2 linked regions of the Homo sapiens genome follow. The protein of the gene in region 2 interacts with the protein of the main gene of each other region in a biochemical or structural test. Each region holds a gene or a part of one and is shown on either strand. Other genes may lie near its edges. The genes, in order: IQSEC1 and SYT3.

Region 1 (12,454 bases), on a different chromosome or scaffold from region 2:
TCCTTTTTCTTTAAAAACAATTTTTGGGTTGTTTTTGTTTGTTTGTGTTTGCTGGGAGTATAGATTCAAGTTGCTCCCCTTTTTGTCCTTTAAGGAGTAGAGTTCTGGGCCTGGTGTGCCCCAACTTCCTAAGGGAGTGGTGCAGATACTGCCTGGGGTTGGGGGTCGTCCACTCTCTTGACAGGGAAGCCCCCATCAGCCCCTTCCTCACCTGGCTGTCGGTGCTGCCTTGCAACTTAGGCCGGACCGACACAGGGCAGAGCAACCTCTGTTCCTTTATCCGTGATGCCCAGATCCAAAGTGGACCACGGTTTATAGTAAGAGATGTCTGCAACAGAGCCATTTAAACAGAAAGGAGAAAGGTTGGGACTTAATAGAGGCCTTTGAAGAGAATTATATGCTTACTGTGGGCCTAATAGGACTGCAGCTATTCATTTTCATTCCATGCATATTATCTGAACGCCCACTATGCACCAGACACTGTGTTGGGTGCCCATGACCAAGGCGAGGCCCCTGCTCTTGAGCTCCACTGTGGCACAGGAGCTGGACAGGAGCAAGTTAGCAATGCAGAGGCAGTTGACTTCCAGAAAGTAATGCAAACTCTAGGGATTCTAAACATTGGGGAAAGAAATAGGGCAGCTACGGGAGGCAATAGCATTGGGTAAGGCTGGTTGGGAAGACCTCTCTAAGGAGGCATTAGAGCTGGCTGTCCCAGGAAGAGGCAACAGCTGATGTAAAGGCTGCCGAGTGTGTGAAATGGAAAGGAAGGCCTGGAAGAGGTTCCAAAGAGGTAAGAGGGAGGAGGCGACATCAAGGGCCACTGAGCATTTGATGGTCCACTGAGCTTCCTGGAAAGCTCAGCAAAAGTGGGAATGGGACAGATTGCATGGGAATCACCAGATGAAAAAGTAGGGTGCCCGATTCCACGAGGAGTTTTAAGTCTGGATAACACAGAGTCCATTTTAGTGAAAGGAGCCCAAGGGCTAGTCTCCTGTGCTCTTCTGGCCCCTGACCCACTGTGCCCTCCAGTGGCTTTCTGTCCCTGAAGCAGGAAACTTGAGTGGGTTTCAGGTACTGTCCCTGTGTCATCAAGAAGTGACAGTTCTGCTTTGCTGAAGGGCATTCTTCCGGGTTCCTCTTCTGTACTGCTCAGAAGTTTCCCTTGAAGGGACAAGTGAGGGCCGGATGGGGGAGCCCTGGCCACGGGGTCGACTCCTCTATCCAGGAACCATGTGCCCTGGGGCAGCGGCTTCCCTCCGCTGAGCGTCTTCCCTCCGCTGAGTGTCTTGTCCTTGCTGAGAAGTGGGGTAGTGAAACCCCTCGGGAGAGCAGAAGCTGCTGTGAGGTGGCATGAGGGTATGGGGGTCCCCAGCACACATAGTAGATGAGCACATGTTAGTAGAATCTCATCCACTGGGTCCCGGGAAACTTTTCGACCGGGCCTGGCAATAGTTCCATCCCAGAAAGAAGAATGACCCACGGTAAGTTTGGGGACGAGGAAGAGTAGCCCCAGGTCCATGTGTGTCCCCCTGGGGGAGGAACTGCCAGGGGCTCTGGTGAACAAATGCAGAGCCCATTGCTGCCTTCCTGAAGTCCCTTCGCCCCCAACACACACAGGTTTGGGCAGGAGGTCTCAGGAAAACAGGGTGGCTGCGTGGTCTGCGAGGTCCGGAGCCAGCAGGTGAGAAGGCCCTGCGGGGAGCTCTAGGCCTGAGCTGGAGGTCCTCGTACTTGTGCCGCCCACAAAGTACAGTGAGGGAAGAAAGGCTTCCTAGATCCCAGCCTTGGGCCTCTTATGGGCCCCAGGGGCTTTCTAAGCTCCACTCACAACCCAAAAAATAGAAACTTTCTGCTTACAGTTGTGGAAGTGAGGTCATTTCTTGGATGGCGTTCAGTAACAGGGCGAGAGAGAAAACAGACTGTGGCCTGGGATTGGAAAAGTCATTTTGATCTGCTCCCCTCAAGCCCCCCCAGCTCTTCTCCTCCACCCAGCCTGCTGGGACCACCCAGAGCCAGGCAGCACGCATGGGCATGCAAGGCCCTGCGTGGCCCTGAGCCAGTCTCCCTGGTGCAGGCCACAGCCTTCGATTTGCTGGACGTCTGTTTGGCATTATTTCAGTTCTGCGCCTGCAGCTGCCTGCTCTCCTTGACAGACCCCTCGCTCCTCGAGGGCAAGGACCTCCATGCCTCCCATTCCACCTCCAGGTGTGATGTGATGCCCAGCATGTAGTGGCATCTGGGACCATACAGGCAGGTGCAACGCTTTGCCTGGCTCCTAGCCCCACATCACATGCCCACGCCACCCCAGCACCCCAAGAGGCCTGGCTTGGCGGAGAAGCCAATTCCTTATCTTGGCCGCAGGAGTGTGTTCATTGTCCACTCAGGAGCAAGGTGCAGGGAGTGGCCCTCAGGACCGTCCTTGGTCACGGGTGCCTCAGGAATTCGGGAGGTCTGTGTGTCCCGCTGAAGCACCCAGGGTTCACCCCGCCCTCTCCCTGCATGTAGCTCACCCCTCACAGGAACGAGCTGTGTAGGCCAGACGAGCCATCTAGGAATGGCGGTGCTCATGAGGGAAAGCCAGCTCCAGAGCCTGAAGGCCTCTTGAGTATGTGTTGAGTCTCTTCTCTGGGCCACAATTTGCCCATCTGTAGAGCAAGGGAGCTTGGGGGCTTTACGAACTGTAAATCCCTTCCCAGAATGCAGCTGAGGGTCTTTCCAGCCCAGCTGCCCCCGTGCTTGGCATGTGCCAGCCCTTGGCCTCTGTCTCCCAGGCTCACCACAGTCATAGGAGGCAGGTCCCAGCACTACCCCATTTAATAGATGAGGAAACCGAGGAACTGCATGGGCTCAGTGCTTACTCTGGGTCACCCAGCTACCAAGGGGCATAGCCTGGATTAGAACTCAGGCACCTGGCCTCAAAGCCTGCTTCTCAGTGCAGCAAACCCCACAGGTCTCCCTGAAGCTCAGTGACCCATCTGGCCACAAGAGCTGCCTGGTTGATGCTGTGGAAAGGAAATGAGTCCAGAAGCCTGTGGGCCTTGCTGGGATCTTTAGCCTATCTCTTGAACTGTGCATACTTCTTCCAGGGTCTCCAAATGGGTTTCGTTAGATGGCATACCTCAAGATGCACCAGGGCCAGGGGCTTCTGTGACCCAAGACACTGGGGACACTCAACATAGTGTATCTCACTGCCTTTTAAAGTTTCTGAGGCCCTGCATGGTGGCTCACGCCTGTAATCCCAGCACTTTGGGAGGGCGAGGCGGGTGGATCACCTGAGGTCAGGAGTTCAAGACCAGCCTGGCCAACATGGTGAAACCCCATCTCTACTAAAAATACAAAAATTAGCTGGGCGTGGTGGTGGGTGTCTGTAATCCCAGCTACTCGGGAGGTTGAGGCAGGAGGATCGTCTGAACCCAGGAGGCGGAGGTTGCAGTGAACCGAGATTGTGCCATTGCACTCCAGCCTAGGTGACAGAGCGAGATTCTGTCTCAAAAAAAAAAAAAAGAGGTCTGAGAGAGGAAAAACATGGTTGCACTCATTTTAACTTGGTGCTTCTCTGTCCAGTTTGACCTTGGGACTCATATTTTGCATAAGCCCACCAGCATCCCTCAGCAGTTGCTTTGACCAACTTTGGGACCTTCCCAGGTCGCACAGCCACGTGGCTAGGAAGTGGGAAGGAGTTTGGTAAATGTCGCACTGTGCCTACATGCAGTGCTGTTCTCATTCTCCTCTCCCACCCGCAGGTGGAGATGCTAGAACGAAAGTATGGGGGGCGCCTGGTAACCCGCCATGCGGCCCGCACCATCCAGACGGCGTTTCGCCAGTACCAGATGAACAAGAACTTCGAGCGCTTGCGCAGCTCCATGTCAGAGAACCGCATGTCACGCCGGATTGTGCTGTCCAACATGAGGATGCAGTTCTCCTTTGAGGGGCCTGAGAAAGTGCACAGCTCCTACTTCGAGGGGAAGCAGGTCTCAGTGACTAACGACGGCTCCCAGCTGGGAGCCCTGGTGTCCCCTGAGTGTGGTGACCTCAGCGAGCCCACCACCCTCAAGTCTCCGGCCCCCTCCAGTGACTTTGCGGACGCCATCACCGAGCTGGAGGACGCCTTCTCTAGGCAAGTGAAATCACTGGCCGAGTCCATCGACGATGCCCTCAACTGCCGCAGCCTGCACACTGAGGAGGCACCGGCCCTGGATGCGGCGCGGGCCCGGGACACCGAACCCCAGACAGCCCTGCACGGCATGGACCACCGCAAACTGGACGAGATGACGGCCTCGTACAGTGATGTCACCCTGTACATCGATGAGGAGGAGCTGTCGCCCCCTCTGCCCCTCTCGCAGGCAGGGGACCGGCCGTCCAGCACCGAGTCGGACCTGCGGCTACGGGCTGGGGGCGCAGCCCCAGACTACTGGGCCCTGGCCCACAAAGAGGACAAGGCTGACACGGACACGAGCTGCCGGAGCACGCCGTCGCTGGAGCGGCAGGAGCAGCGGCTGCGGGTGGAGCATCTGCCGCTGCTCACCATCGAGCCACCCAGCGACAGCTCTGTGGACCTTAGTGACCGCTCGGAGCGGGGGTCACTCAAGAGGCAGAGTGCTTACGAGCGCAGCCTTGGCGGGCAGCAGGGCAGTCCCAAGCATGGTCCCCACAGCGGCGCCCCCAAGAGCCTCCCCCGGGAGGAGCCTGAGTTGCGGCCCCGGCCCCCCAGGCCCCTGGACAGCCACTTGGCCATCAATGGCTCAGCCAACCGGCAGAGCAAGTCTGAGTCGGACTACTCAGACGGTGACAATGACAGCATCAACAGCACGTCCAACTCCAACGATACCATCAACTGCAGCTCCGAGTCATCGTCCCGTGACAGCCTGCGGGAGCAGACGCTCAGCAAGCAGACCTACCACAAGGAGGCCCGCAACAGCTGGGACTCGCCTGCCTTTAGCAACGATGTCATCCGCAAGAGGCACTACCGCATCGGCCTGAACCTCTTCAACAAGTGAGTACCATGGGTGACCCCTCAGGGTGGGCAGCTGTGGCTTGCTGGGCCTTGGCGGGTGGGCGTGGCTGCATCCTTCCAAGCACGGAGCTTGAGGTCCACCGTGGCCTATGAGCATAGGAAGCTGCCACACAAGGTCGGTGGCTAGGACGGTGCCAGCCTGTGCGCTGAGGCCTAGCCCCTCCTGGGACTGCTGGTGGGGATGGCAACACACACAGGCTGAGCAGGGGCAGAATGGGAGCTTTCTGTGCCGAAGCAACTTGAGTCCCGGGCCCTTCCGTCCCATCCCCCCCAAGTCCGCCATAGCAAGTGGGGTATGTTGGGCCATGCCCTGCGCAACTTTGGATGTCAGGCCTAGGGGTGATGTGGGACACAAAGGCCTTTGAGCAGGGGTATGACCGGTTGTGTCAGTGGGGGGCAGGGGCAGACAGGCGAGACCCAGGGCTGTGTCTTGTGGGGGATGCAGGCCAGACCTGAGGCCATGTCTGGGGGTAGGAGTGCTCAGGGGCAGTTGCTGGCCAGACCCAGAACCGTGTCCTGGATGGAAGGAACTCAGACAGATGCAGGCCAGACCCAGGGCTGTGTCTGGGGGTCTTGGGGAGATGCATGAGTTGGGTTCATGGAGTAGCTGCTCCCCAAGGGGGTCCTGGAAAGGTGCCGTTGACCATCCTGAGAGCAGATCCAAGGAGCGATGGGTATTTAAAGCAGACTATTCTTAGCACAGCCAAAAATAGCAAGAGGAAGGGGAGGAGGGCTGAGCACTTGGCCTGGGGAACGTGCAGGCTCCTGTCCAACCTGAGATTTCTCGTTATTTCCACTCCCTGGGCTACTGGGATTTGGCCTCATCAGATGCTGGCCTGGCACCAACTCCCCTGGGCTGGTGGTTCCTGACACACATCCGGGGAGCCAGGGGCAGACGACAGTTTTCCCAGGAGGTCAAACTAGGGTGATGAATGGCGCAGTGGGACCTGGCCACCTCAAAGCCAGTGCCTGAGCTGGCTCCCTGCTCCGTCTGCCCCCTGTTCTCTCTTCTTCTAGACTGGGGGAGATGGTGCTTTTGAGCCATTCCTGGGACACATGGAAGCACTATCTTGGGATGTCAGAGAGGCCTGTCTCAGGAAGAGCCTCTGGGGAATGGTGCATTCACTTGGGGCCAGTAAGGGGCAATGGCTTACTGGTTTGCTCAGCTAAGAACAAAGAGTCTTGGACATCTCACATCTACCAGGATGCTCTCTCCTGAGCCTGTGATCTGCCTGTGGCTTGCTGCAGAGTACGGCTGCTCTCACTGCTGCACAGGCCACGGCCGGAGCAATGCGCTGGACAGGGGAGGGTTGCATCCTGCTGGCCCACCTGACACGGTCCCTGAAGTCTGTCCCCACTGCTCCTGGGCACAGCCGAGCTCCAGGATCATCTCTCGACCCAGGCCCATGTGCCCTAGAGGGGAGGCTGGGATAACCAGGGGTCCCTGCAGAGTGGACAGGTGGAGGCCAGCAGTGGGGAGACAGGAAACCAGGAAAAACCACCTCCCTCAACCAGCCAGCTTTGGTCTGTGTAGATTCTTTCTTATTCAGTTAACTTTTAATTATCTGTGTAGCACGTGAATACATTCTTCACAGAAAATGCATGCCTTGCAGCTCAGGATAACATCCTCTTGGACTCAGCATGTTGCAGTCTCTCCTTCCAGATTTTTTTCCTGTGCATTTGTGTGCACTTCTAGGAACTCTAGACAGCCATGGTTAAGAACACAGCTTGGGGCTTGCTTGCCTGGCTTTAAATCCTGGCTGTGCCCCATCGTATCTCTATGTCCTTGGGCAGCATAACCCCCCGTCCCACAGTGGCCGCATCTGTGAAATGGCTGATGCCAGGGGCACCCTCCTCCCAGGGCGGTGAGGGTAAAGCGTTGGTCTGTGTGAAGTGCTGAAAGCAGGACGTGGCACAGGATAGGGCCTTACTATGTATTAGCTGCTACTGTTGGATCCTTGCTGACATCACTCAGGGCGCGGGACTGTGACATTGTCTTATGAGGGTATCGCTGGGCTCTACACACAGGCTGTCTTGCTCCTGTGTGCTGCTGAGTGGTAGTCCCCGCCGTGGCTATAGGTTATTTGGCCAGTTGCTTCTAGCTTTTCATAACTAGCACTAGTGTGACAGTGGTTGTGATCCTTACACACACACCTGGCAGGCCTCTAGATCATATGGCTGGAAGTGGAATTGCTGGGTCTTAGCTAGGCACGTTTTTAGTTGAAGGAGGAACTGCCCTTTCCCTTCCCTTTCTTTGGCCCTGCGCCTGTGTACCACCTCCACTTCTCTCCCTGCGGGGTGGTATGTCCCGGCCTTTGCCCGGCCTCCAGCACAGCTCTCAGTTCCCACCCCTTCCTAGCAACGAAGCAGTGAGCGTTCCTGGCACAGGCCTCTGTCTGGGGGGACGCCCCCTTTAAGGGAATCATGTACCAAAGTGGGAGAGCCAGCAGCAAGCGGGGAGGAAGAACAGAAACGAAGCCTGAGAAAGTGGTGTAGGTTGGTGGGGAGGGCATCCCGGGGGCTGCCGAGGTCTACCAGGCCTCCAGATGTTCCTCTGGGCATCTGCCGCTTACTCCCAGCTGGCCCAGCTGACAGCCACACAGCTGATCTGGCTGGCGGTGCTGCGGGAGGGCAGGGGTGCAGGAGCCAGAGGCAGGAGGGTTTCAGTCCTGGATCTGCCACCTATCAGCTGTGGGACCTGGGGCAACTCCCTGAACTCTCTGAGCCTCACTGCCTGCACCCGGAACATGTTTGTGCAGTGGATGGCAGCTGTTGTGGTCAGCAAGGGCTTCTGTGTCCAGAGTGCCAAGGGAAGGGAGCTTCCAGGGCTGGGCTTTAGGAAGACCCAAACAGGCATTGTGATGGGCCAAGCAGTCAGAAATAACGAGAATAGCTAATCCTTCCATGTGCTGACGGTGCGCCAGGCATGGTTCCCAGGGCCTGTCACGCGCTAACGCACGTTACCCTGTGCAGTGGGTGAGCTGAGTCTCACATAGTTGGTAGACGACTAGGGACGTCACACCCTGGCCACTTGGCTCCTGAACACATCCTCTTAAAATCCATGATGTAGGAACTGCTACCACAGGTATCCCTGGGCTCCCTACCTCCTCACTGGGTGACAGATCTGTAAACTGAGTCCAGGAGGCAGAGCCACACCATCTGTGGGACGCCATGCAGCCCTGCAGCACATGGAGCTGGGGCAGGTGCCCAGCAGGGACCTCACTGAGTCTGTCACCTCCGCATTGGAACCCCACCCCAGCGTCTCCTGCTCCTGTACCTGGTACACACCGTCAGGGGTACATGCCTGGCTATGTCCACTTTCTGTCTGTCACATTCCTCCCTGGAATGAGCCCAGGTGACCATGTCACAGGTGAGCCACACCAGACCTCTCCCACCTCTGCAAGAGCATCCTTGGCCCCAGAGCTGCTTCATGATGACACGGGCACCCTCAAAAAGGAGTGAGAAGCTTGTCTCTGAGAAACATGTACGCAGGGCTTGGGTGGCCACCTGGTGTGACAGTGTGGTTGGACTACTTGGCTAAGAGCTTTCCACAGGGGCCTCTGAGGCCCTTCCAGCACAGGGCCCTGTACCTGGAGGCAGCCCCCTTCTGTGGACCTGGCCTCCCCTACACTCGGCGCCCAGCCCCTGGGGCCCAGCAGCCTCGGGTCCCATCCACCTGCTGGAGCTACTGCAGAAGGGAGGCAGGGGATGCTGTCACTGGGATCCTGCAGGGAGCGTGGCTGTTTCACCCTTCCAGCGCCCCCAGGGGGCCATTCCCCTCCACCTGTGGGAACAGGGCTCAGAGAGTACCCCTGATCTGCATGCTCCAGCTCTGTGCTCCTTGTGTTTAACGTGTCTGCTGTCATTGATAAAAATAGCAGTGAGCAGAGCCGGCCTGTGCAGAGCCTGGACCAAGCGCCAGGCCCCATGCCGAACACCTTCCGCCTATTGTCTCACTGATTCGCCACAGCCATCCTGGGAAGCGTAGGTGCAGGCAGCGAGGCTGAGAGCCCAGGCCCAAGCTCAAGGCCACACACCAGAAGTGCTGGGCCCAGAGGATGTGCAGTGCTGCTCCCGTAGCCTGTGGTGCTGATGATGGAAAGGATGGGCTCTCTTAGGAGCACTTTGAGCTGGGTCTTTGGAGGTTGGGACCCCTCTCCCCTAGACACAGGCCACTGTGGCCTGTGGCCCTTGATGCTACCCGCAGCCCAGGATCCCGAGCCCTGGCCTGGGTCTGAGGTGGCTGGTGCTGAGTCTTGGAGAAGAAGACAGTGCCAAGGGAAGCCCTGCAGGGGGTGCTTGCCACACTTCAGAGGGTGATTCTCCTGCCTTCTCTCTGGGATCAATACCAGGGAAGCCACTTGGGTTCACGCTACCAGAAAGTGCGTGTAAAAGTCAGAGCTGGTGGAGCAGGCAGCCTCCGGAGGTGGCGAGCTTGCTGGCCCTGGCAGTGTGGGAAAGGCTGGAAGTGGCACCTCTCTGCAGGACCCTAGGTTGCTGCATTGGAAGGGCATTTTCAGGTGTGCAGGGACTCTCCGAATGCTGAAGTTGGTGAGTCTATCCTCACCCCCACAAGCAGTTAACAGTTACCAGGGCTCAGACCTCTGACCACGGAGATCCTCGGGCACTCCAAACCCTGTGTTGGTCTCTGCGTTAATCATGGCCTTCTCTGTTGCATGTGACAGGAACTCTATCAAACTGGGTTAAGCAAAGAGGCTTTACTGGTTCACGGACCTGAAAAGTCCCGGGTATTTCTTGGCTCCATCTGGCTTAGGGTTGGCCCTGCCCCTTGCCAGATCCTCCCTGACCCAGGGCAGGAGGGCCATCAGAGAACCCCAGGCCTGTAGTCTGACCTCAAGGCAACCCCAGTAGGAGGAAGAGAGATTCTCCTCCCCTCATCGGCTCCTTCTGGCTCTTGTGCCTCTCCCTGAACCACTTGGGCAAGCAGGATGCAGGGCTCTGACTGGCCTGGAGCAGAGAGTAGAATCTGCCCACTAGGTCTTAGGGCCTGAGCTGGAGGGTAGGCTGGGAAACCTGGGGGCTGAAGCTAGGTGCTTGGGCATCCATCCACTTCCACATCTCTTAGGCATCCTGAACAGTTAAAAAGGACTGGAGCCAAGCACAATGGCACATGCCTGTGGTCCCAGCTGCTTGGGAGGCTGAGGCGGGAGGATCACTTGAAACTAGGAGTTTGAGGCCAGTCTAGACAACATAGTGAGACCTGGGTCTTAAAAGAGAGAGAGAGAACCCTTTCCTGGATCCTGCACACCCCTGCTGGGAAAATACCAGGGTAAGCACTCAGTGCTTTGCTCCAGCAGGTAGGTGTTCCCCACGTGCAATCCACAGCCTTGCAGCAGCTCTTCCTCAGAGCCTCACACAGCTCACTCTTCCCACCAGCAGCTCAGCTTGCCGCTGAAAGACGATGAGAGATGCGTGTGCAGGAAGTGACTGGTGCAGTCTGTGCTTACCTGTCACACTTGAATCTGAATCGTCATCTGATGTGAGGAAAAGCTGGCTCAGCCAGCTTTAGAGGAGGCAGCTAAGGCCAGACCTGGGAGCACACAGCAGGGATGGAGCCAGGAGGCTCCGACTACACTGCCTGCTGGGGCATTTTAGGGGGCAGCAGGGCCGGGGGTACAGAGGTGGGTCAGGTATAGATGATGAGAATGTTGCAGGCAGCACCTGTTAATGCTGGGTCCTTACAGGGTGGAATCAAGAAGAGCTAAAGAAAGAGTAACGGGTATACACAAAGGGACTGTGGGAATGGGGTGACTGCAGAGTTGGACGGAGTGGATTTTCAGCAGCAGGAAGGGCATCCGGAGGGTAGAGGGAATTTTTAGGGACTTCTGGGGCAGAAGCGTGGATTATAAGTCCTGGTACCCATCATCTTGCTGGGCAACCTGGAGCCAGTTTTTTGACCCTTCTGTGCCCCCATTTTGTTACCTGTCAAGGCTTTTGCATTGGCTGTTCCCTCCACCAGGGACCTTCTTCCTGGCTCTCTGCCCAGGCTCAATGCCATCTCGTCAGGGTGGGCTTTCCTGCCCGTCCTTCTGCCCCTTCCAGCTGAAGTCGATGCCGTCCCAGCTTTCTGTGGCATCACCCCGGGTGAGTTCTTCTAGCCCAGGCCTCTCCTTCCAGCTGTGAAGCCTGAAATGGTTTCTGAGGCCTGAGGCATGGTACGTTATGAGTACGAACTCATGGATTCTTCACAGTAACCATTGTGTGAACTGCTGTCATCCCCATTATACAGACACACAGAAAGGCTAAGTTCACTCACCCTGGGTCGCCCAGCCAGAAGTGGAGCTGAGACGGAAGTGTGGGCTTCTGACTCTCCCAGCCATGCCCCTGATGCTTGTACTGTAGCATATTTCTGTATTCTTGGACTTTATCTCCGTCTGTATCCCTCTCTAACTAGAAAGCATGTTTTTTGACGATGGGGACCATAACTGTGCTAGCATAGCACCTAGCCAGGGTAGGTGCCCAATAAATGTTTGTGGAATGAATGAAGGAGGTGGGTGTCCATAGGGGACCGCACAGCTTCCCCCTTGAAGTGACACAGACCCCTCAGCTCACAGTTCAGTGGCTGAAGCATGTCCTGCAGCCCTCTCCCCAGGGCAGGCGGGAAAGTAAAGTCCTGCCAGGAGAGGAGGTGGTGGGGGTCCAAGGCCACACCAAAGGCCCACCTTCGACCTGTGTGATGCTTGGCAGACCTTGTGGAACTCTGTGAGGCAGGGCACAGGTGGATGGAGAATTCACCACCCAGCAGGGCCACCAAGGACTGATTGGGGAAGGAAGGGCTTCATTACACGGGCTAGGAGTAGGGGAGGGTAGCAAGGTCCCAATGGCAGGGGATTCCCACCAGTAAATGCCCAGTGCCCTGGCCGTCTGCTGTCAGGGAGGCTGTTGAGGGCCTGTCACTCCTGCAGGGAGCTTTGCGGAGACTCCCAGCCCCACCCTGGAGCCGGCCCTGGCTGTCCAGCTGCAGCTTCTCCCTAGTTCCCCTCAGGTCAGCAGCGAGCTCTTCATCACCGGCCTAGGCCCCCTCACTGAGCATCCTCACTTCTGCGGTATGGCCCTTGAGGCCTGCCGGGTGGAATCCATCGCCCGCACTAGGTTCAGGCTAAAAGCTGACGCCATCCTGGACTCACTGCTCCTTGTCCTTCTTGCTCCTACCTCCACCGCCCCCACCTCGGCCACCCCCACCCAGATCCATCAGCAAATATTGACACCTCTGCCCTCAGACTGTGTCCTCAACCCGGCCCCCTCCCACCTCTGCTGCAGCATGGCCAGGTGCCCACAGGAGCCCCTCACTCAGCTGCCAGCTGGGCCCTGGCCCACGATCTCCCCAGCATGGCATCGCTCTTGTGGACTTAGGACCCCATCACCACCCTCTTGACCTCACACTGGGGCTTCTCAGCCCACTCGGGAGAAAGCCAGACC
Region 2 (12,379 bases):
GGTTGGCAACATATTTATCCCTGTTTTCCACAAAAGAAAACTGAGGTCTGTATACCCATAGTTACCTGCTCAAAGTCCATAGCTGGTAGGTGGTAGAGTCAGGATTTAAGTCTGGGAAGCCTGGCTTCAGAGCCCATGGTCTTTACTATGATGCTATCACACCTCAACGCTTCCCAATAAATGGTAGTTCAAATGTGAATTTTTATTAGAATAATAAATCCTATTGCTGCCACTATGTGCGTCCAACACCATCAACAAGATAGCTAACACATTCTGAATGCCACATATGTGCTGATATGCCTTGCAGAGAAACCCAAGTACAGAATTGTTCTTACAATCAAAGGTTTTAGGCTTCTTCAGTAATTGGTACCAGGAGTGGGGTTTTTCAGAAATGACCTTCAAGGAATGGGAATTTGTTTTGAAATGGACTTCTGGGTGTTGACAAAGTGAAAGACAGGGAAAATCCCTACTCCTGACAGACAGTGGGTTATGGTGGGGAAGCAGGTAGCTAGGCCATTGCCGGCAAGGACAGCTGAGTGGAATGGCTGTGTCCAGTTATATTAGGGGACACACAGCAGGAAGGGGTTGCCTTCTGGTCCTGTACTGCTTAGTGAAGCTACAGTGGTGTGTGACATTAATCCTTATGACATTATATAACTTTGGAATGACTTATCCCATTTTACAGATGAGAAAACAGGCTCTGAGAGAGAGGAAGTGGCCCTGCAGGGACATATACCAGGCACTGGCAGAAGAACTCTGGGTTTCCTTCCCCCCTCCCTCTTGGGGTGCTTTTTTTTTTTTTTTTTTTTTTTTTTTTTGAGGCAGAGTCTTGCTCTATCATCCAGGCTGGAGTGCAGTGGCATGATCTCGGTTCACTGAAGCCTCCACCTCCCAGGTTCAAGCACTTCCTGTGCCTGAGCCTCCTGAGTAGCTGGAACAACAAGTGGGCACCAGCATGCCTGGCTAATTTTTGTATTTTTGGAATAGACGGAGTTTTGTTATGTTGGCCAGGCTGGTCTTGAACTCCTGGCCTCAGATCCATCCACCTCGGCTTCCCAAAGTACTGGGATTACAGGCATGCACCACCATGCCTGGCCAGAGTGCTCCTTCTCTTTTTTTTTGAGACAGAGTCTCGCTGTGTCACCCAGGCTGGAGTGCAGTGATGTGATCTCTGCGGAGTGCAGTGGTGTGATCTTGGCTCACTGCAAGCTCCACCTCCTGGGTTGATGCCGTTCTCCTGCCTCAGCCTCCCAAGTAGCTGGGACTACAGGCGCCTGCCACCATGCCCAGCTAATTTTTTGTTTTTGTATTTTTAGTAGAGATAGGGTTTTACCATGGATGGTCTTGATCTCCTGACCTTGTGATCCGCCCACCTCAGCCTCCCAAAGTGCTGGGATTACAGGTGTGAGCCACCACACCTGGCCCAGAGTGCTCCTTTTTAAGTGACCAACACTCACTGAGCATTCTGGGTGGCCTGTTAGAAACCAGAGGCAAGGACTTTATGAGCCTCCTGAACACAGGTTGAGTTGAGAAAACAGGGTCATTGTGGAGAAAAATTAAACAGATGCTTTCCCCTACCGCCAGCCTGATTCAGACCCTGTCCAACTCAAAACATGAATCCCACAAACCCTGACAGATTCCCCATTCCTGTCTGCACAGACTGGGGAGTTATTTGGGCGTGGAGAGGTGGTGTAGTTGCGCAGTAGAAGATTCACCTTGCCCAGAGAAAGGTTTGGCCCTTGATCAGCTCCCGGGAGGGAACCTCTAAGCCCATGGAATGTCCTGCCTGATTAGAGTGTCTTTGTTTACCTGGGGCCTTGGATCATGTGGCATAGTCTATGTTAACACTGTGATATATGCTGGAGGCCTCCAGCTCAGCCTCTGGAGGAGCTGGAGACTAAAGTCAGCCACACCAGCAATCAGTCACGTATATGAGGCCGACCCCCAATAAAAACCCTGCCCACCAAGGCTCAGGTGAGCTTTCCTGGTTCGTAATAGACTGTGCATGCTGTCACATGTCGTTGCTGGGAAAATTAAGCACTGTCCATGTGACTCCACTGGGAGAGGATGACTGGAAGCTCACACCTGGTCTGTCCTGGACTCTGCCCTGGGTGCCTCTTCCCTTTGCTGACTTCAGTCTGTATCCTTTCACTGTCATAAACCATAACCATGAGTATAACAGTTTCCAGCCAGGCGTGGTGGCTCATGCCTGTAATCCCAGCACTTTGGGAGGCTGGGGCGGGTGGATCACTTGAGGTCAGGAGTTCGAGACCAGCCTGGCGAACAGGATGAAACCCTGTCTCTACTGAAAATACAAAAAATTAACTGGGCGTGGTGGCAGACGCCTGTAATCCTAGCTACTCTGGAGGCTGAGGCAGGAGAATCACTTGAACCTGGGAGGTGGAGGATGCAGTGAGCCGAGATCCCACCATTAATTACACTCCAGCCTGGGCAACAAGAGTGAAACTCCATCTCAAAAACAAACAGACAGACAAACAAAAACAGTTTCCTGAGTTCTGTGAGTCAATGATTCTAGCAAATCATTGAACCTGAGGGTGGTCATGGGCACCTCCAGACTACAGTGCTGTACTAGACTATGCAGGATTCAGTTCTGCCTCTGCTACCATTGAGCCTCTGGGCAAGTGACTGCTGCTCTCTCGGCCTTATCCCTCATGACTGTCACCTGGACATCCTGCACATGAGGTGCCAGACCCTGCCCTGGTGCTCAGCAAGTGTGACTGTGGTTGTAATCACTCAGCACATGCTTCCTCTGGTCACCGTTTCCTCATCTGGACAATGGCACTCATAATGTTTCCTCATTCCCAGAACCCTGCTGCTTTCTAGCTGTGTGACCTTGGACAGGTCACTTCACCCTTCTCAGCCTCAGTTTCCTCTGTTGAAAATGGGGATTATATGTTCCACAAAGGGTCACTGTGAGTAATCATTGAGATGTGCAGAGGACCTCGCATGCTGCCTGGACCACAGTTGGTGCTCAGTAAGTGAATCCCAGCATTGTTCTAAGTTCTTCGTAGGTGTTATATCATTTAAGTCTTTCATCTGCTCTATGAAGCATCCCTTTTATTATCCCCATTTTCCAGATGAGGAGACTGAGTCCCAGAAGAAGAGTCACTTACCTACAGCCATGCAGTTATTAATAAAGTGAGGGAGATGGGACTTGAACCCAAACAAGTCAGTCTGACTCAAGAGCCTGACATTTGCACAAGATGCAGAGAGATATCTGAAGGGGGCATTTGGTGGTGGTAGTCGGAGGGAGGCCCACAGGGCAAAACTCAAAAAGCAGACCACACAGCTCCTTCCCCTTGGATCAGAGATTTGGGAGAAGGGCAGCAGCAGGCAGAATGGGGGCAAGACGCTACGAGGGACTGACCCCACAAGCAATGGAAAGCTGAGCAGTTCTGCTCCGAGTCTCCTGGCCATAGTGCAAGCAGGGGGCTGGCCAAGACAGGCAGGGGTGCTGACCTGCATCTGGACCCCGGGGATAGCCTCGGATTCGGTCATTGAACTCCTGGCACCTGTCGTTGGTGTCAGCATCTCGGACCCGCGCACAGAGGTCCGAGACCAGGATGAGTGCCCGCCGGCAGAGGTCATCCTCGTAGTCTCCTGACATGGTGGCCGTCTGGTCCTGTGTGTGGGAGGGATGGGGCAAGGGTGCAGATGGGAAACAGAATGGGAGTGCAGGGTGGGCAGGTGTGGAGATAAGGGTGGAAAGAGACACCGAGAAAAGGAAGGATGGGCAAAGGGGACAGAGATTAGGGGCAGATGGATTAGGGATGGAGATTCGAGGAAGAAGGACAAGGTGACAGGTATTAGGGATGGACAAGGAAAAGGAATTAGGAGTAGACAGACAAGAGGGCAGAAATTAGGGATGGAGATAGTAGCAGGGACTGGGTAAGTCAAGGGGACAGAGATGGGCATGAGTGGAGTAGAGGACAGAGAACAGGGACAAATGAACAAGGAGGAAGAGATGGAGAAGGGCAGTGAAGGGGCTAAGAATGAGGATGCACAAATAAAGGGATGGACAGATGAGGAAACAAAGATTAGGGCTGCACAGATGAAGGAACAGGAGTTAGGGATGAGCAGACAAGGTGCCAGCCATTCATCATTCATTCATTCAACAAACATCCATCCAGCACCAACTACGCCCTACGTGCTGTGCTGGTTGCTGCGAATCCAGCAGAGAACAAGGTCCTGGAGTTCCCTGACCTCCCGGTGTCACAATCCAACGAGAGGAGACATAGAGTAAACAAGCAAACAAAAACACATACACAAACCGGTCACTGTCAGACTGTCTGTGAGAAGCGCTCCACAGGACACAGCTGGAGAATGTGTCACAAAGGAACTCAGAGGGGGGCGGTCAGGGAGGGCTCTCCCAAACCTGAAGGATGACATGGAGCCAGCCACAGGCGGGGGGCAGTGGCGCCAGGATGGGAAAAGCATTTTAAAGAAAAGCATTTTAGACAGTAGGAGCAGGATGACAGGGGCTTAGGGTAGGAAAGCAGTTGGAGGGTCCAGGGACCAAGGAGGCCAGACTGGGGTAGACGCGGGGAGGGCCAGGAGAGAAGGATGGATGTGGGTAGAGAGATTGGAGGTGGATAGGTATGGTGGGAGCTGGGGGTGGAGAGGTGGAGATGCAGAGATGGGGACCAAGTTGAGGGAGGGAGAGATACAGGGAGGGGAGACAGAGATAATGTGAAGGGCAGACTGAGGCTCCGAAGAGATGGAGAGGTGAACAGGCAGGCAGAAGGAAAGTCAAGGATTGAGACTTGGGATGGACAGTGACAAGGAATGAACCGAGATGTAATTAATTCACGGGGGCTTGAGAGACGAGAGGACGAGAGACGGTGAAGAGGGGCAGGCAGGAGTGTGGGCAGAAATATCTTTGAAAGAGAAACGGTCGAACGGGAGGATGGATGGGTGGGCAAGGACAGCAGATGATGGCTAGAGATCGCAGATAGACAAAAGGAGACAGGAGGGCTGGGCAGACAGACATGGGTTCATAAGGGAAGGTTCAATGAGCACATAAATGAGAGGAGGCTAGGAAGGAGAGGTGGATGTGGGGAGAGGGGGAATTAGTGACACATGGCTCGGAGCCAGGCATCAAGATGGGTTGAAGGGGATGCAGGGGAATTAGGAACAGACAGACCAGGGCTCACAGATGGACAGGTGTCGTGGGGGTGCTGCAGAAGGCCAGGACTCCAAGACAGGCATGGCCACACTCACCTGCGCTTATCTCTGCCGTGTCCTGGGTGGCAGCCGAGGCGGCGGCGGGCGGCAGCCCATGGGGGTTCTAGGGCGGACAAGGGGCTGTGGACCCGTTCCCACGCGCCGGGTAATGAGAGAGAATGTCTGATCTAGGGGCTGAGGCCGGGAGAAAAAGCTCAGCTTAACAGTCACATCTTGCCCTACTCGAGCCAGCTGCCCGACCCCAGGCGACCCACTGGGAGCCCGGCCACCCCCTCCCACCTCCGGGCCCCCAGCTCCCGTTGAGGGCTTAGAGACTACAATTCCCGGCAGGTCTCGCGCTCGCGCTGCTGCGGCTTCATAGACCCGGCGCTGCAGGATCTGCTGGGAGTTGAAGTCCTTAATGCCTCCGGGCTGCAGAGAGGATGGGATTTTTTTTTTTTTTTTAAGGTTTTGGGGGGTTAAGATGCTGGGGTCCCAAGACGCTTCAGGGGAGGGGAACGATGTCCGGGACTTCGAAAAGCCACGGAGCCCTAAGTCCTTAGGGGCCACGGAATGAGGAAACGATCCCCCCGCGCTGGGGATCGGTGGGCGAGGGGTGGGATACACCCAGGTGTTTCGGGACCCCCTTCCAGGGCCACGTGCCCCTCCCCCGGGGTGGCCAGAGAGCGCTGCAGCGCTCCCACTCCCCGGCCCGAGATCCACGCGCCTCTGCATCTACCCCGCCCCCATGCGCCGGGGCCGACCCCAGGGATTTGACTGGGGCTGGGGCTGTGGCAGGAGGAGGGGGAGGAGCGGACTCACCCGGAGCCGCCGCTGCCGCCGCTGCCGCCGCCGCCGCCGCCGCAGCCCCGCGCGCCAGCCGCGGTGCCGGCTCGGCTCCTCCCCTCGCCACTGTCGCAGGTCCGCGGCTCCTCCCCCTGCACCCCCTCCTTCCCCCACTCCGAACCCGCGGCAAGAAAGCCGAAATCACTTGGCCTCAGCAAGGAAGCAGGGAGATTGCCCGGGACTAAGGCAGCAGAGACCCAGTGGGTTTCCACACTGGGGACCCAGAGATCTAGGATCACGACGTGCTGCTTCTCCAGGGTCCGGGGGCCCAGTTCTCCGCCCCGCTATCTCACAGAGGTAGAAGTCCGGGGACCCCAGGCCCCTCTTCCCAGGAACCCAGGACTTCAGGCCCTCCAACCTGAGCCGCTCTGAAGGCCGGTGGTAGGAGCGGAAGCTGAGACTCAAAGGTACAGTGCCACAGCCAGGATAGAGGTACTAGCAGGGACCTGGGTTTGAATCCCACCTGGGCCAACTCCTGCCTGTGTGCGCCTCTTGCTCTGAGGCCCCGTTTCCTCATCAGCAAAATACACACCATAAACTTATTTCCTAAGGGATCCACAGTTTGAAAAACCGGTCAGTGTAGACAAAACATTGGTACCAACTAGGTACTTAATGAATATTTCTCAAAAGTAGTGAGTAACAGTTTCTGGTATATTAATAGCAGTTAATGGCAATTGTCATTTCCTATAAGTGGTGAAGTGCTAAGTGCTTTGAAAGCGTTTTCTCATTTAATTTTCACTTGGGTGCAATTATGACATTCCCATTTCACAGAGGAGACAACTGAGGCCCATGGAGGTTAAATCCCTTGGGTAAGGTCTAGATCAGGGGTGTCCAATCTTTTGGCTTCCCTGGACTGCATTGTTGTCTTGGGCTACACATAAAATACACTAACAGTAACAATAGCTGATGAGAAAAAAAAAATCACAAAAAAATCTCATAATGTTTTAAGAAAGTTTACAAATTTGTGTTGTGCCGCATTCAAAGCTGTCCTGTGCTGCATGCGGGCCTCAGGCCATGGGTTGGACAAGCTTGATCTAGATCTACATAGCCTGGAGAGGTGGCTCGGAGGCCCCCTCAGTGCTCTCAATCAGTGACATCCAAATAAATACAACCTCTAGGTAAAAATCAAAGGCTGGGCTGACACCTGTAAATCCCAACACTTTGGGAGGCTGAAGTGGGAGGATCCCTTGAAGCCAGGAGTTTGAGACTATCCTGGACAACGTAGGAGACTCCATCTCTACAAAACAAAAAAACCAAAAAACCAAAACAAAACCAAACTAGTGGGTGTGGTGGCGTGCACCTGTAGTCCCACCTACGCAGGAGGCTGAGGTGGGAGGATTGCTGGAGCCCAGGAATTTTTTTTTTTTTTTTTTTTTTTTTTTGTGAGACAGAGTCTTGCTCTGTCGCCCAGGCTGGAGTGTAGTGGCGCGATCTGGGCTCACTGAAAGCTCCGCCTCCCGGGTTCACTCCATTCTCCTGCCTCAGCCTCCTGAGTAGCTGGGACTACAGGCGCCTGCCACCGTGCCCGGCTAATTTTTTTTGTATTTTTAGTAAAGACGGGGTTTCACCGTGGTCTCGATCTCCTGACCTTGTGATCCACCCGCCTCGGCCTCCCAAAGTGCTGGGATTACAGACGTGAGCCACCGCGCCCGGCCTAGCCCAGGATTTTGAGGCTGCAGTGAGCTATGATTGCACCACTGCATTCCATCCAGCCTGGGCAACAAAGCAAGACCCCCATCTCAAGAATAAATAGCCAGGTGCGGTGGCTCATGCCTGTAATCCTAGCACTTTGGGAGGCCAAGTGGGCGGATCACTTGAGCTCAGGAGTTCAAGACCAGCCTGGGCAACATGGCAAAACCCTGTCTCTACAAAAAATACAAAAATTAGCTGGGTGTGGTGATGCATGCCTGTAGTCCTAGCTACTTGGGGGGCTGAGGCAGAAGGATCACTTGAACCCAGAAGGTGGAGGTTGCAGTCAGTGAGCCAAGATTGTGCCACTGGGCTCCAGCCTGGGCGACAGAGTGAGACCCTGTCTCAAAAATAAACATAAATATGAATAAATAAATAAATATTTAGAGCAAGAAATAAAAATGTCAAAATAAGTAAGTAAATAAAAGTAAAAATTGCTTGCTGCTTCTGCAAATACAACTTTAAGCACGCATCCTGGGCCCTCCCTCTAATTAGATTACACCCTACCCCTATTGCTGCCTATGTGTACATTTTGCAGCCATTATACTACCACAGAACCCCCAGAAATGCCTCCCAGGTTTGCCGAGTCTCTTCCTTGTGGCTTCTTGCATCCCCCCAGATGGATGTGTGTTTACATCCAGGGAAGCATGTGCGGGTGTAAACCTACAGACCACGAGTGCAGGTCCCCATGCCAACTCTAACAGCCCGACCCTTGAACCCTGCTGGGCCTGCCCAGGGTCCACAGGTAGCCCTGTTCCACAGGGAGAGACACGCAGTGATGCACACACTCAGAGATGGGCACACAGATGGGCTTGCCACGCTGCCATGACACGTTTCCAAAGAGACGCTCGGATTCCGAGGCTGCCCAGGCATTGAGAGGCAGCCGTAGTGCACTGGTTTTCTGTGTGACTTTGGGGGCAGAGCACTGGGATTCAAATCCCAGCTCTGCTCCCCTCTCTATGCAACCTTGGAGGGGTTACTTAGATTCTCCATGCCTCAGTTTCCCTCTCTGTAAGTGCAGATAATAATACTTTAAAAAATCATACTCTGGCTGGGTGCAGTGGCACATGCCTGTAATCCCAGCACTTTGGGAGGCCGAGGCTGGCAGATCACCTGAGGTCGGGAGTTTGAGACCAGCCTGACCAACATGGAGAAACCCCGTCTCTACTAAAAATACAAAAATTAGCCGGGCGTGGTGGCACATGCCTGTAATCTCAGCTACTTGGGAGGCTGAAGCAGGAGAATCACTTGAACCCAGGAGGCAGAGGCTGCAGTGAGCCAAGATCATGCCATTGCACTCCAGCCTGGGCAACAAGAGTGAAACTCTGTCTCAAAAAAAAGAAAGAAAGAAAAAATCATATTGTATCTCACTGGGTTATTTTGAGGGTTAAATTAAATTCATGGAAGGTGCTTAGGAAAAATGGCTAGTGTTTAGTGTTGTCATAAATAAAAATTAAATGCATTTGCTCATTTAAACTTTAGCTGGACTTGACAAGTGAGGAAATTGAGGCTCACCAAGGGAAGCGCTCTGCCCAAGATCACACATCTGGAAAGTGTGAGTGGAGATTAAAAACTGTATGGGTCTGGACCAAGTGCAGTGGCTCACACCTGTAATCCCAGCACTTTGGGAGGCCAAAGGTGAGAGGATCCTTTGAGCTCAGGAGTTGAGACTTGCCTGGACAACATAGTGAGACCTCATTTCTACAAAAAATACAAAATTTAGCCGGGCATGGTGGCACACACCTGTAGTCCCACCTGCTTGGGGGGAGGCTGAGGTGGGAGGATTGCTTGAGCCCCAGAAGTCGAGGCTGTGGGGAAATGGAGGCTGCCCAGAGTCCCGTCCTTGTGCCTTCTTGCATCCCCCCGGATGGATGTGCGTTTACATCCAGGCTGGAGTGCAGTGAGCCATGATCGTGCCACTGCACTCCAGCCTGGATGTCAGAGTGAGACCTTGTCTCAAAACACAAAAAGAAAAAACAAAAAACGGAGTGGATCTGAATCCAGAGCCCTTGCCTTTAGCCACCATGCTGTTTGCATCTAGGACCCATTTGAGGACTTGCATGCTACTGCTGCTAGGAGTATAGAACAATATAAAGAACACCGGACAGGGAGCCAGGAGACAGAGATAGAATCTTCCATATTCATTCAACTCGATTCATGCAGTCATTTGAGAAATACTTTCTGAGCACCTAATGTGTGCCAGGCATTTTTTTTTTTAGACAGCAGGGATTCATCTGGGAACAAAATAGACTAAAATTCCAGGGTTGGAAGAGCTCATGGTCTAGTGGAAGAGACAGAAAATAATCAAATAACTACACATACTAGGATCCTCATACTAGGATCAATGCTAGGAAGGAACATCCATTGTGCTGTGTGTTTGAGAGAGGTCAGAGAAGTTCCTGAGCAAGTGACTTTTCAGCTGAGCTCAGAAGGATGAGTAGGCATAAGCCAGGTGGTGAAGATGAGGGAGGGGAGGGGAAATGCTCCAGGGAGAAGGAACAGCTCATGTAAGACCTGGGGGCAGGAGGGAGTTTGGCACCTTGAGGGCTGTCAAGCACACAAGCCCCGTAGGAGTAGCACTTTGTTTTGTTCATAGCTGTGTCCCAGCTGCCTGGCACAGTACCTGGCGCATGGTAGGCACTCAATACTTATTGGTTGGTTGAATGAATGAATGAACATGTGAATGGATAAGTGGAGGAATGTGTGAATCTATGATGTATTGATGGATGGGTGCATGACTGGATAGATGCTGGAAGGATAGATGAAGGGATGGACAGATAGGTGGATGAGTGAATGGCTGGATGGATAAGATGGATGTTGGAGGAATAGATGAAGGAATGGATAGATGAAAGAGTGGATGGTTGGGTGCATACATGGATGATTGGATGGATAGATGAAGAGTTAGAGTGGGGATGGATAGATGGATACTGCAGAAATAGATGAAGGGATGGATGAGTGAATGGCTGGATGGATAGAGGATAGATTGGTGGATAGATGGATGGATGTTGGAGGAATAGATGAAGGGATGGATGAGTGGATGAGTGGATGAGTGGATAGTTGGATGGGATGGATGGAAGCTGCAGAAATAGACGAAGGGATGAATGAGTCAGTGGTTGAATGGATAGAAGATGGATGGATTTGTGGATGGGTGGATGGATGTTGGAGAAAAAGATGAAGGAATGGATGGATGAGTGGATGATAGGATGGATGGATGCTGCAGAAATAAATAAAGGGATGGATGAGTGGAGGGTTGGGTGGATGGATGGATGATTGGATGGGTAGATGGAGAATTAGATAAAGGATGGATGGATTTTGGAGAAATAGATGAAGGGAGGGATGAGTGGATGGCTAGGTGCAGGGATGGATGATTGGATGATTGGATAGATAGATGAAGAGTTAGATAGAGGATGGTTGGGTGGATGTTGGAGAAATAGATGAAGGGATGGATGGATGGGTGACTGATTGAATGAGTTTTCACAAATACCTACAGATTCACACACATATGTGCCTGGAGGTAGATGCAGATACACTCAGAGGCATGCACACATGTGTGTAAATACAGATTCACTTGTTCTCCTGGTGCTCCTCCTGGAGAGAGCAAACACTGAGAATGGGGAGGTGGGGAGACACACCTTTTGGCCAGGGCTATGGCCATCCCTGCCACCACTGCGGCGCTGACAGTATTTCTGGAATTGGAGGAAAACGCTGATTCAGGGGTGTGTGTTTTAGACTGGGCACCAGGCCAGGAAGTGGGACAGGGATGGCCCAGAGAGATGGATTGAGTGGCAGAGGGAAGTCGGTCGGAGTAAGGCAGAGAGACAGGCAAGGCGACAGAGAGGTGGAGACACACAGAAGCAGAGAGATGGGGAAATAGGCAAAGTCATGGAGGCAGAGACAGAGACATAGAGAGAAAGGGAAGGAAAGAGAGATGGAGACACAGAAACAGAGATGGGGAAATAGAGTGATGGAGACAGAGACAGATGTACAGAGAGAAAGACAGGGAGAGAAAGATGGAGATACAGAGACATACAGAAATCTACAGAGATGCAGACAGTGAGAGACAGAGATACAGGAATACAGAAACCTGTGATACAGGAATTCAAATTCAGACACACACTGTAGTCCCAGCACTTTGGGAGGCTGAGGCAGGCAGATAGCTTGAGCTCAAGAGTTCAAGACCAACCTGGACAACATGGTGAAATTTCAGCTTTACCAAAAAAATACAAAAATTAGCCAGGCGTGGTGTGTGCGCCTGTAGTTCCACCTACTTGGAAGGCTGAGGCGGGAAGATCGCTTGAGCCTAGAAGGTTGACGCTGCAGTGAGCTATGATTGTATCACTGCATTCCAGCCTGGGCCCTTGTCTCAAAAAAACCCCCCACGAAACCCAAACCCCCACAAAAATCAAATGCAGACACACAGAGAGAGATGAGGTAGGGTTCCAGAGACAGGTAGAGAGAAGGGAAGAAAGATAAAGACACAGAGAGCAAATGGAGGCACAGATAGATGGAGACATAGAGTCCCAAATCCCAGAGGGAAGAAGAGAGACACAGAGGAGCAGAGAGAGATGCAGAGGAGGAGGGACAGTGACATCCAGCCAAAGCTAGATGCAGAGTCAGAGGACTGGAAAGGAAATTACCTCCTTTTGGGTGCCTCCTTGGT

Evidence for each region.
Region 1: the proteins of SYT3 (region 2) and IQSEC1 form a complex in vitro, tested with the Homo sapiens proteins (one study listed by BioGRID).

Annotation. Positions count from the first base shown.
Region 1 is NC_000003.12:12,927,987-12,940,440, reverse strand, and holds part of IQSEC1 (IQ motif and SEC7 domain-containing protein 1), read left to right. Parts: intron 1-3,743; coding exon 3,744-4,993; intron 4,994-12,454. UniProt on the Homo sapiens protein: Guanine nucleotide exchange factor for ARF1 and ARF6. Guanine nucleotide exchange factor activity is enhanced by lipid binding. Accelerates GTP binding by ARFs of all three classes.
Region 2 is NC_000019.10:50,633,784-50,646,162, forward strand, and holds the start of SYT3 (synaptotagmin-3), read right to left. Parts: upstream 6,099-12,379; 5' UTR 6,007-6,098; intron 5,617-6,006; exon of another isoform or gene 5,380-5,616; 5' UTR 5,242-5,379; intron 4,163-5,241; exon of another isoform or gene 3,644-4,162; 5' UTR 3,629-3,643; coding exon 3,481-3,628; intron 1-3,480. UniProt on the Homo sapiens protein: Ca(2+) sensor involved in Ca(2+)-dependent exocytosis of secretory vesicles through Ca(2+) and phospholipid binding to the C2 domain.